Homo sapiens: one gene and its partners. The protein of the gene in region 3 interacts with the protein of the main gene of each other region in a biochemical or structural test. Each region holds a gene or a part of one and is shown on either strand. Other genes may lie near its edges.

What was found.
Region 1: the proteins of HERC5 (region 3) and ERCC2 form a complex in vitro, tested with the Homo sapiens proteins (one study listed by BioGRID).
Region 2: the proteins of HERC5 (region 3) and UBE2E2 form a complex in vitro, tested with the Homo sapiens proteins (one study listed by BioGRID).

What each region holds. Positions count from the first base shown.
Region 1 is NC_000019.10:45,353,561-45,357,213, forward strand, and holds part of ERCC2 (general transcription and DNA repair factor IIH helicase subunit XPD), read right to left. Parts: intron 2,169-3,653; coding exon 2,105-2,168; intron 1,292-2,104; coding exon 1,170-1,291; intron 1-1,169. UniProt on the Homo sapiens protein: ATP-dependent 5'-3' DNA helicase. Component of the general transcription and DNA repair factor IIH (TFIIH) core complex, not absolutely essential for minimal transcription in vitro.
Region 2 is NC_000003.12:23,528,235-23,531,887, reverse strand, and holds part of UBE2E2 (ubiquitin-conjugating enzyme E2 E2), read right to left. Parts: intron 1-3,653.
Region 3 is NC_000004.12:88,470,544-88,474,196, reverse strand, and holds part of HERC5 (E3 ISG15--protein ligase HERC5), read right to left. Parts: intron 3,584-3,653; coding exon 3,524-3,583; intron 1,789-3,523; coding exon 1,695-1,788; intron 1-1,694.

The DNA of each region.
Region 1 (3,653 bases), on a different chromosome or scaffold from region 3:
CGGGTGGCCAATCAGGGCACCCCAACCCCTGCCAGCGATTGGTGGAGGGGCTGACTGTGAGGCAGGCAGAGCCAATCAGAGGCTGCCCTGAGACTTCCCATATGACACTACAATAGAGACAGTGTGGAGCCAATGCAAGGACAGACCACTGGGACAGAATGGAGAGTCCAGAAACACACAGCCACCTGTGCAGTTCAGTGGGGAGAGCTTTTACTGGAGCAAGTGGATTTTCAAATGGAACCAAAAAATGAACCTTGACCCCCTACTTCACACCACATAGAAAGATGAATTTGAGGTACCTCATAGACCTGGATGTGAAAGCTAAAACCACAAGCTCCTAGAAGGAAACAAAGGAGCCTCTCTCTATGACCTTGGGGTAGGCAAAGGTGTCTTAAGTAGGACACAAAAGGCACCTGCGCTGTGGGGACTGGGTCACCTTTCCCGCCGCGTGGAAGCCGCCTATTGAAGCACAAGGCCGATGTCCTGGCTGTGAGGATGACGTTCCCGCCTCCCATGCGTGCCTTTCCAATACCTGGATTAGCCAAGTTCACTCACCTCACCCCAAAGTGCTTTCACCCACTCCTGAGAGCCCGGCCATGGTGTGCTCAGAGGCACAAAGTGCAGAGTGGCCTCCCCTCCCACCCATGTCCTGCTGGTCACCCAGGGCCTGGCTGTGGTGAGCCCTGTTTCCAGAATGCCCCACGACCTCCTCTAGCTGCTTCCCTGAAGGGGCTCCTGCAGACCCTTGAGAGGCTCGCCCCGAGTCTTGGTCCAGCCTTAATTCTCTAGAATTCCTCTAACCCAGCTAGAGCCACGCCTGCTATCTGGGCCTCCCCACCAGGCCATCTGTGCTGGAGGATAACAGGGATGGGTAACCCCAAAAGCAGCAGAGAAGCAAGGAACCTAGAACGTGGGGGTGACTCTGCCACAGGGTACTCCTCTGAGGGAGGGGCCCACATTGGGGCTTATATCTGCATTCTCAGCCTGATGTACTGGGGGCGGGGCATGGGGGTGTGTGCTGCTTACACCCCATTCCTACATGCTGCACACACTCTCCTGTCACACAGGAAACCTGTCACCATCAGAGTGTGAGAGGAATGAAGCTGACATAGCGGTGCAGTGCCAGGGACTGAGGAGAGCAGGTGCAGGGAGGGGGTGGCCAGGCGTACCTGCTCATACCAGGAGGCCACGGTGCTCTCCATGTACTGGTAGCTGGTGAAGAAGGCCACGATGCCATCAGGGACCACAGCGGACATCTCCAGCAGGAGGTTCCCATAGTTCCGGATCACAGCTGCAAGGGGTCAGAGGTTGGGCCCTCTCCTGGCCCAGGTCCTCCTCCCTTCTCTGTCTTAGAACTAGGAGTTTCTGGAAACCCCACTGAGGCTGCCTGTCAGGCTTTTCACACATATCCCCCTCCTCCTCCTCCCGGGCGTGTCTGAGGACCCGCCTTGCCACTTCCTGAAGTCACACCTGGCTATGTGATTTGCCATGGCCAATGAAATGAGTGCAGAAGGGGCCGGGCGCTGTGGCTCACGCCTGTAATCCCAGCACTTTGGGAGGCCGAGGCGGGTGGATCATCTGAAGTCAGGAGTTTGAGATCAGCCTGGCCAACATGGCGAAACCCCATCTCTACTAAAAATACAAAAATTAGCCCAGCGTGGCGGCAGAGGCCTGTAATCCCAGCTACTCGGGAGGCTGAGGCATGAGAATCGCTTGAACCCGCAAGGCAGAGACTGCAGTGAGCCGAGATCATGCCACTGCACTCCAGCCTAGGCAACAGAGCAAGACTCTGTCTCAAAAAAAGGCCATGTGTCACTTCCAGGGGAGCACCCTTAGGAACCAGTGCACAATACACTGTGACCACTGTGATCCCACCTGTCACATTATGCTGCCTCTGACACACCCAGCGGTGGAGGTTCCCAGGTGAGGAGACACAGGGCAGGCCCCTACCAGCTCACAGTGGACGTGTACCACGGGCAAGAAGGAAACTCTGGGCTGAGCAACTAAGGCCAGGGATATTTGTTACAGCAGCATGACTCAGCCCACCTGACTGATACACCTCCCCTCTTGGAACCCACAGAAACCAGCCCCACTGGCAGCATACCAATATCCTCCCGGGTCTCAAATTTGGAGCTGATGGCCACCTGGTCATTGCCACGGCCGATGATCTGGAGAGCAACAGAGGTCACGATAAGCGAGGCAGCAGCAACTGCTCCAGCGTGAGTGCTGACCACCTGCTGGTGCTGTTCTAAGCTTTTTTTTTTTTTTTTTTTAAAGAGAGACAGGGTGTCACCATGTTGCCCAGGCTGATCTTGAACACCTGGCCTCAAGTGACCATCCCGCCTTGGCCTCCCAGAGTGCTGGGATTACAAGCATGAGCCACCACACCCAGTCTGCTCTAAACTTTTTATAAACACAGTGTCATTGAATGAACCCTCAGCAACCCTGTTATCTGCATTGCACAAATGACCTGGGCTCAGAGAAGGTGAGTTGCCTGCCCAAGGTCACACAGCAAACAGGTGGCAAAGATGGAACCGGACCCGAGTCTGTCCACACTCTCCAACAGCAGCTACACTCTAGCCAGCCCCAGGCCCTGGGCCAGCCGGATCCCGAAGAACACCCCTCGCCATGCCGGCGGGCATCCCACCAGCCGGCAACCTCACACAACCACCATGCAGTGGGGGTCATTACCGGTCCACAACCTCTGACAGGCAACTCCAAAAGCCAAAAGCTCTGAACACATTTCTTTTTCAAGTTTGGCACAAACTCATGAAGCAGCAAAACCTGCCCTGCCCCGAGTCTCTCCAGAGGCCTGACTTACTCCTTAGTGTGATGCTTCCCAATCTTTTACTGCCGAAATGGGAGTTTGACTCGGGGGAGCTGCCCAGACCCCACTGTGGGCATCACACACCACACAGCATAGGCCTTGTCTCTAAAGGCTGGAAAATTCTGAATTCCAAAACAAATGGCTGCGCGCAGTGGCTTACACCTGTAATCCCAGCACTTCGGGAGGACCAGGCGGGCGGATCACTTGAGGTCAGGAGTTTCAGACCAGCCTGGCCAACGTGGTGAAACCCCGTCTCTACTAAAATTACAAAAATTAGCTGGGCATCGTGGCACATGCCTGTACCAGCTACTCAGGAGGCTGAAGCATCAGAATCACCTGAATCCAGGAGGCGGAGGTTGCAGTGAGCTGAGATCCGTGCCACTGCACTCCAGCCTGGGCAACAGAGCAAGACTCCGTCGCACAACAAAAACAAAAAACCACATCCAGCCTGGGGACTTCAGATAAGGGACTGAGGGCTCATGTTGACATGCACGTGTTACAGAGACGGAGACGGAGAGGAAGGCTCACTTACCTGGGTCACAGCCAGACCACGTACTCGGCAAGATGCTAAGATGCTGACTAAGCGCCTACCTGTGCCAGGCCCTGGGCGACCTAAGTGGTTTACCCCAGTTCTCTCTCTCAATCCTCTCAACCACCCTGGGAGATCAGGGAGGATACATTCCCATTTCACAGATGAGAAAACTGAGGCTTGAGAGTCGAGCCCACAGAGAAGCAGAATCAAGCCTAAGTCTGTCTGAATCCCGAACCCAGCCTCTTCGCTGTAAAGCTCTCCTGCCTGAGCAGTGGGGGAAGCCAAGGAAGGAGG
Region 2 (3,653 bases), on a different chromosome or scaffold from region 3:
GTTTTGCCATGTTGGCCAGGCTGGTCTTGAACTCCTGACCTCAAGTCATCCGCCTGCCTTGGCCTCCCAAAGTGCTAGGATTACAGGTGTAAGCCAACATACCCGGCCTATAACACAGTTTTAAAACATAAACTAAGGCATTTATATAAATAACATGCCCAGTTCATAGAACTATATTAGTATAATTATAGTAGTTACAATTTACTATTTTAGTTATATTACTAGTTACAATTAGCTGTAATTTAGAAACCTTTTCCTTCTTAAATTTTATTTTTAAAACGTAATATTAGTGCATCCTACCTTTGCCCTGTGATAGCTAGATCACCACTGTATGCTGCTTACATGTAATTGTGAAACATGACCATATCATTTGTAAAACACTTCAACTGAAAATAATTAAGTGCAAATCAGTTTTATAACTACGAAAATAATTAAGTGCAAATCAGTTTTATAACTACTAAAACTGTTTAATAAAAGTGTTATGTAAACGGCAATAAGATGTGAATATTATTGATTAATATTATGTTCATAAATGTTCTTAAATTTTAAGTTGAAATATACAAAAATCTCAGGGTTCTAAAGACAGTCTTTTGGTACCCTATGTTCAAAATAGCTCTGAACCAAGAAAAACACACATGCAGATCTCTGCAGGTGCTGCCACTCCACCAGGGCATCCAGCATCCAGTCAAACACCAGATTTATGTAATTTACATGATGCGAAGTCTCAGAAAGGGCAAATCTAGAGACTTATGTGGTTGTCGAACAAGAGACATCATTCTCAGGTTAAATTAGTACTTCTAATGAGAACTGCCCTTCTAGCATCATGCCAGACCAGATAATCCATGACACCTACATACACATCTTAAATGCCTAGAAATGTTGAAGAAAATATAACCAACATTCTTTAAAATGCATAGCAAAATCTGTAAGGGGAATTCCCAGAGCCCAGAATTAAAAACCAAAAATTATAGTAAGCGCAACAAGCTGAGACTGCACCTGCCATGGGTGGGGTTTTGGGAAGAGGGAAGGGAGTAAAAGATGGTACTCAGTCTTAATAAAGTGGAGGTTTGGGTTTTGATGCCCTCATGGAAAAAGAAGATGAAATCTTAGGCCTGTATGTTGCAAGAATTTAGAATTGAGCGCCCTTATATCAATTAGGAAACTCGAATGGCTAGTCTTTCAGTAAATGCATGGACTTGAAAAGATATGCCTTATGACAGAGATAGCAAAGAAACTTACCAAAGAAAGCGTGGGCTCTAGAATGAGAAGAGAAATGTTTTTCCTGAGAATTCTAAATCCTAGATACATATACTGTGTAAACACTAGCTAACAAAAACAGCTTAAATGACTATATTATCAGATCAAAATATGTTTAAGGGAAAAAGCATTGTTAGAAACAAAGAACGTTACTGATAAAATAAACAACTCATCAAGAAAACAGTAACAATTCTGAATGTGCTGTATCTAACAATATAGCCAAAAGTATACAAAGTAAAAATGTGCAAAATTATAAGGAGAAAATGACATAGCTATAATCAAAGAGGGACATTTTCACCACAGTAACTGATAGGTCAACCAGACTAAAGATTAGTAAGGATATTGGAGATCTGAACAATTGGATAAACAAAATCAAGGGAGTGAATGAAGACACAATCCTACACTTAATGATTAAGGAACATTTAAGAAACATTTGTAAAAACTGATCCCATGCTAAGCCACAAAAGAAGCTTTACATATTTCAAAGAATTGACATTATTAAGACCATAATGTAAAGTCAGAATCTACATATAAAAGATCCCCCTATCATATGTTTGGAAACTGAAAAACTCATTTTCAAATAATTCTTGGATCAAAGAAAAAAATCAGTTACTATTATTGCTGAATGACAATGAAAATATTGGGTTGCCAATATCAAAATTTTGTGACTCAGCTAAAACAGTTGTAAAAGAGAAATCTACAGTTTCAAACACATACATTAGGAAGGAAGACAGATATTTAATGAGTTAAGTGTCCAACTCAGGAAGGTAGTAAAAGAACAACAGAGTAAACTCCATGAAAGAAGAAATAAAGACACTAGCCTAAGTTAATGAAACAGAGACTATCTCGTGATATTAAAATTTCTCTGGAGAAGGCAGAGTGCCTATCCCTTTAAGTGCTAAATGAAAAGATAAAATATTTTTACGATCCCAATTTAACCAATGAGTGGCTTACATAATATTGATAATTAACCCTCAAAACAACTCAATAGGGAAAATAATATTATTGGCAACCACTTGAAAAATGATGAAACTAAGGCAAAGGGAGGTTAAAGAACTGGCTCAAGATCCCACAAGTGGTAAGTGGAAGCCAGAATTTGAACACAATTGTGCTGATCCAAAAGCCTACGGTTTGTCTCTCAGCATCAATGCCTCTGTTCTTTCGTTAAAAATTTATAATTCTGGGATAATTGTAGATTCATGTACAGTTGTAAGAAATAAAGAGATCCCATGTATTTTTCACTCAATTTTCCCCAATGAAAACATCCTGTATAACTACAGTATACTGCAGGAAACTGACATTAATACAGTCCACTGACCTTTTCCAGTTTCATTTTTATGTGCACTCATGCATATTAAGTATATTTAGTTCTATGTAATTTTATCACATGTATAGATTTGTGTGAATACCACCAGTCAACACACAAACAACTCTATCACAAACATTCTTCATGGTACCCTGCGATAGCCATAGTTGCCTTCTCCCTTTACTTCAATTCCTGGCAACTACAACTCTGTCCTCATCTCCACAACTTTGTCATTTCAAGAACGCTATATAAATGGAATCGTATAGTAGGTAACCAATTGAAATTGGTTCTTTTCACTCTGCACAATTCCCTTAAGATCCATCCAAGCTGTTGCACGTGTCAATAATTTGTTCCTTTCTTACTGATGAGTAGTATTCCACGGCATAGATGTGGTAGAATAGGCAGATAAACAGACATGAGGAGGAGAAGGGCTGCCCTGAGAAAAGGAGTCTGGAAAATCTCATGCCCCAGGGATCACCCCAAACAGGCGTGCTAGATATGAACAGACAGGAGGGGAAATACCTAGGCAGAAAGGAATCCCCCTTAAGACCCCAGTGATTGCTCACTCTGCCAGTTAACCTGCCAGAATGTAGCTAGATGCATGCTAAAGGGAAGAGGGCAAAGGAGAAAATTCCTAAGAGATACGCAGAAGCAATTTGTGTCCAACATCGGGTTCACGCGTGCACACCAATAGTAAGGGAGGGTCCCACAACCTTGGGGCGGGAACTAGGTGAGGGAAAAGGCAGGGACTTAAGGCAGATGCAGAAAACTAAACAAAGTAAAAAGGCGGAGACTTAAGAAAGAGGCAGGAACTTCAAGAAAAAATCTGAAATCATAAAAACCCACCACTCTCGGGGTGCTGCTGGCTCACTCTCTTTCAGCAGCTCGCCCTGCCTCATCTTTTCAGAGTGTACTGTCTCTCTAGATAAACTCCCTACTCTGTATTTTCCTTCAATGAATTCTCTTTCTCTGGCTAAACCAGTAGCTTGGCAGAATTCTTTCTCCAAATAAGACTAAGAACCAAACAGTAATAGATGTACCAATTTGTTTACCCATTTACCCACTGAAGGGCATCTGGGTTTCTATGAGA
Region 3 (3,653 bases):
GAAGTGTAAAACACACCAGGTCTTTGCACTGATGTATGCATGTATGTATCTGTCTCCCTTACTACACCATGAGCTTCTAAAGCACAGGGAGTATGTCTCTTTTATTCTTCATCGAGTCATCATTACAGTGCCCAGCACACAGCAAGTATTCAAATGTTTGCTGAATAAATGAACACATGCCAAAGGTCTGAGAGTCCGTATCGCAGAACCTCAAGATAGAAAGAAACATTACAGGTCTTCTAATCCAATCATCTTATTCTGAAACAATGGAGGTCAAGGATGCCCTATGATTATTTCATTTACATACCATATGTTCTTTTTGTGGCACAATCAAGGTATAATTAGTAAACAGAAGGAGCCCTTAATGATGAACTGATCCAATCCCTTCCCTTCACAGACGCACAAAAGGGCTTCTATTTTTGGTAATCTTTCCATGGTTGTATTTAGTAGCAATGACTCAGAATCTTACAGAAAGAAAGTTAAACTGGCCCCCACAGGAGGATTTTAGAAAACAAAAGAAAATGAGCTCTAACAAATGTTGATGAAATAGTCCACTGAGTAGTTTCTGGGTTGTTGATACAGGCAGCACTAAGTGTTGTAGGGTCCCAATAAAGGTACATAATTAGGGAACCATTTCACCTCGGACCCCCAGTGGGGCTGTGGTTCTGCCAAAGTTAAGAGAACTGAACTTTCCATCTTTCCTTGAAAGAAAGGAGCGAATGAGAAAACTTGCAGCTGAAATAGAAAATGCTAGTTGTGGCAAACAGAGCAAGTGCGGGAGCTGAAAGGAGGAAGGGTGAGAGATCAAAGATTGAGAGGGAAAGAGAAGAGGGATATGAACACAGAGAGAGATTAAAAAATGGGGTGAGGCTAGAGGGAGGAAGGAGGGGAGGAGGGAAGGAGAGAGAAAGAAAGAAGGAACTACAGTGCGACCCAGAGAGAAAAAAATGGAGAGTAGAACAGAAAGTAGTATCCCCATATCAACCAGTAAAATAAAATAGGGAAATAATAAAAACTACATTAAGAAAAACTAAATTAATAAACGAAGCATGCAGTAAGCCGAGATCGCACCACTGGACTCCAGCCTGGGCAACAAAGCGAGACTCCGTTTCCAAAAAAATAAAAATAAAAATAAAGGAAGCATGTTTGGAGCACCTGCAAAAAGAAAACCTAAAGATAGCAGTAACAGTGCTGAAACAGGAAACAATCATCCCATAAGGAACAAGAACATTCTAGAATCTACAGAAAAGTAGAATGGAAAAAAAAAAAAAAAAAGAATCCAGGCAGTCCCTGGTGAGAGGGATATTCATATCAGAAAAAATGTTCTCATTTCTACATTTATGCTTTGCATATAAAATGTTCTTATTCTAGTGTACCAATCTCAACAAATCCTTAATCATCTTCCTAAAGCCCTGAGTTGAAAAACTTCCCTCTACGAATGTGTATGCATATATGTGTATGTGTGTTTGTGTACAGACACACTATTTAGAATATCTGTAACCTGTGTGACTACTATGCCAACTATTTCACCCTAAAAGGGCAAACTCCTAAATGTTATCTGAGTTTAACTTAATCTGAATATGCTACAAGGTCTCGGAGAATCCCTTAACACAAAACATTTCTTCTGAAATTTTGAGTTCTTTTAAGAAATATTCTGGTGTATTTTCTTTCTCCACATAACAATCTGAAGATACCATGTTAGTAATCCAGTCCTTTTGGGTTAACTCCTTGAAGATGTTTCTTGCTTTATTTAAGTCCAAATAAACAGGCATCATTTCTGTAGTTCTTCTGTAGAAGAAAGATAAATTAAGTATTTTGTTAGATTATCTCCCTAGATGCAAAGTTTCTTCTAGAGCTTGCCCCATTTCAACAAAATTACCTTTTTTCTCAAGTGTGTAACTATAATAAATTGTCTAAATCCAAATGCAATGTAGTAAACATGATTTTTTCTAAAATACCAAAAAATATCAAGGCTGCTTTAACTGTATATACCATAAGACTTTAACTCAGATGCTGTCTTATCTGTAATAGATTAAAAAAATTAATATTTCCCAGTTTAAAAAAAATAGCCACAGAGGGAGGCTGAGACAGGATAATCGCTTGAGCTTGAGAGATCAAGGCTGCAGTGAGTTGTGAACATGCCACTGTACTCCAGCCTGGGTGACAGAGCAAGATCCTGCCTCAGAAAAAGAAAGAAAGAAAAAAAGAAAAGAAAGAAGGAAGGGAAGGAGGGAGGGAGGGAGGGAGGAAAGAAGGGAGGGAAGAAGGGCGGGCCATAGAAAAAAGATAAAGGTTTTTCGAAGGAAGGAAGGAAGGAAGAAAGGACTGACCACAGGAAGGAAGGAAGGAAGACAGAAAAAAGATAAACATTTTTCCCATTTCTAAAAAATACATCCATTTCTTCCCGTTAAATGGACTGAAAAGTGGGAACCAAAAGAGAGGGCTTCTGACCAATAATTTCTTAGTACTTCAATATAAAGTTATTAATGAAATGTTTAAGTATCTTCTCATGGAAGACCTTCTAATGGAAGGTCATGCAGCCATTAAATTATGTTACCGGCTGGGTGCGGTAGCTCACACCTATAATCCCAACACCAGGAGGCTGAGGTGGGAGGACTGCTTGAGGCCAGGAGTTCAAGACCAGCCTGGGCAACATAGCAAAGCTGCTGTCTTTACAAAAGCTAAAAAATTAGCAGGAGGTGGTGGCACGTGCCTGTAGTCCCAGCTACGTGGAAGGCTAAGGTGGGAGTTTTGCTTGAGCCCAAGAGTTTGATGATGCTTGAGCCCAAGAACCAAGATGCTGTAACTCCAGCCTGGGTGATGGAGTGAGACCTTGTCTCAAAAAAAAAAAAATTACCAAAAAAGATAGAATAAAATGTAAAATGGGCAAATATTAGGTAGAAAACAATGTATAAACAATATGATCCAGCTGGGCATGGTGGCTTACACCTGAAATCCCAGCACTTGGGGAGGCCAAGGCTGGTAGATTGCCTGAGCTCAGGAGTTCGAGACCAGCCTGGCCAACATGGTAAAACTCTGGCTCTACAAAAAAATACAAAAATTAGCTGGGTGTAGTGCCATGTGTCTGAAGCCCCAGCTACTCAGGCTGAGGTGGGAGGACTGCTTGAGCCTAGGAGGCAGAGGTTACAATGAGCCAAGATCACAGAACTGCATTAAAGCATGGGCAACGACAGGGCAAGACCCTGTCTCAAAAAAAAAAAGAAAAAAACAAAGAACCAGTATGATCTCATTTTTTTTAAAAGAATACATTTGCATGAAAAAATATAATCATATACGTAAGTGCTAGCTATTACTCTTAAGTGATGGATTATGGAAGATTTTCACTTTCTTTTTATTGTGTGTATTTTTGACATTTTCTACAGCAAACATATATTTACTTTTGTTAAAAAAAATTTTTAAAAAGGGATGAACACACAGCTATTTTACTCTCCAATCATTTTTTTATCCTCTTTCACGGTACTCTTAATACAATTTAATACAATTAATTTATTACATATATTACCTTTTCCTTAAAAAACTTCCAGTTAGACAAGCAGGAGATGAAAATATCTCTTGGATTTCCCTATATTAGTAATAAGACACTGGTTAAACCAAATCACATGGTATACATACATACAGCCTCTTTCTTTACA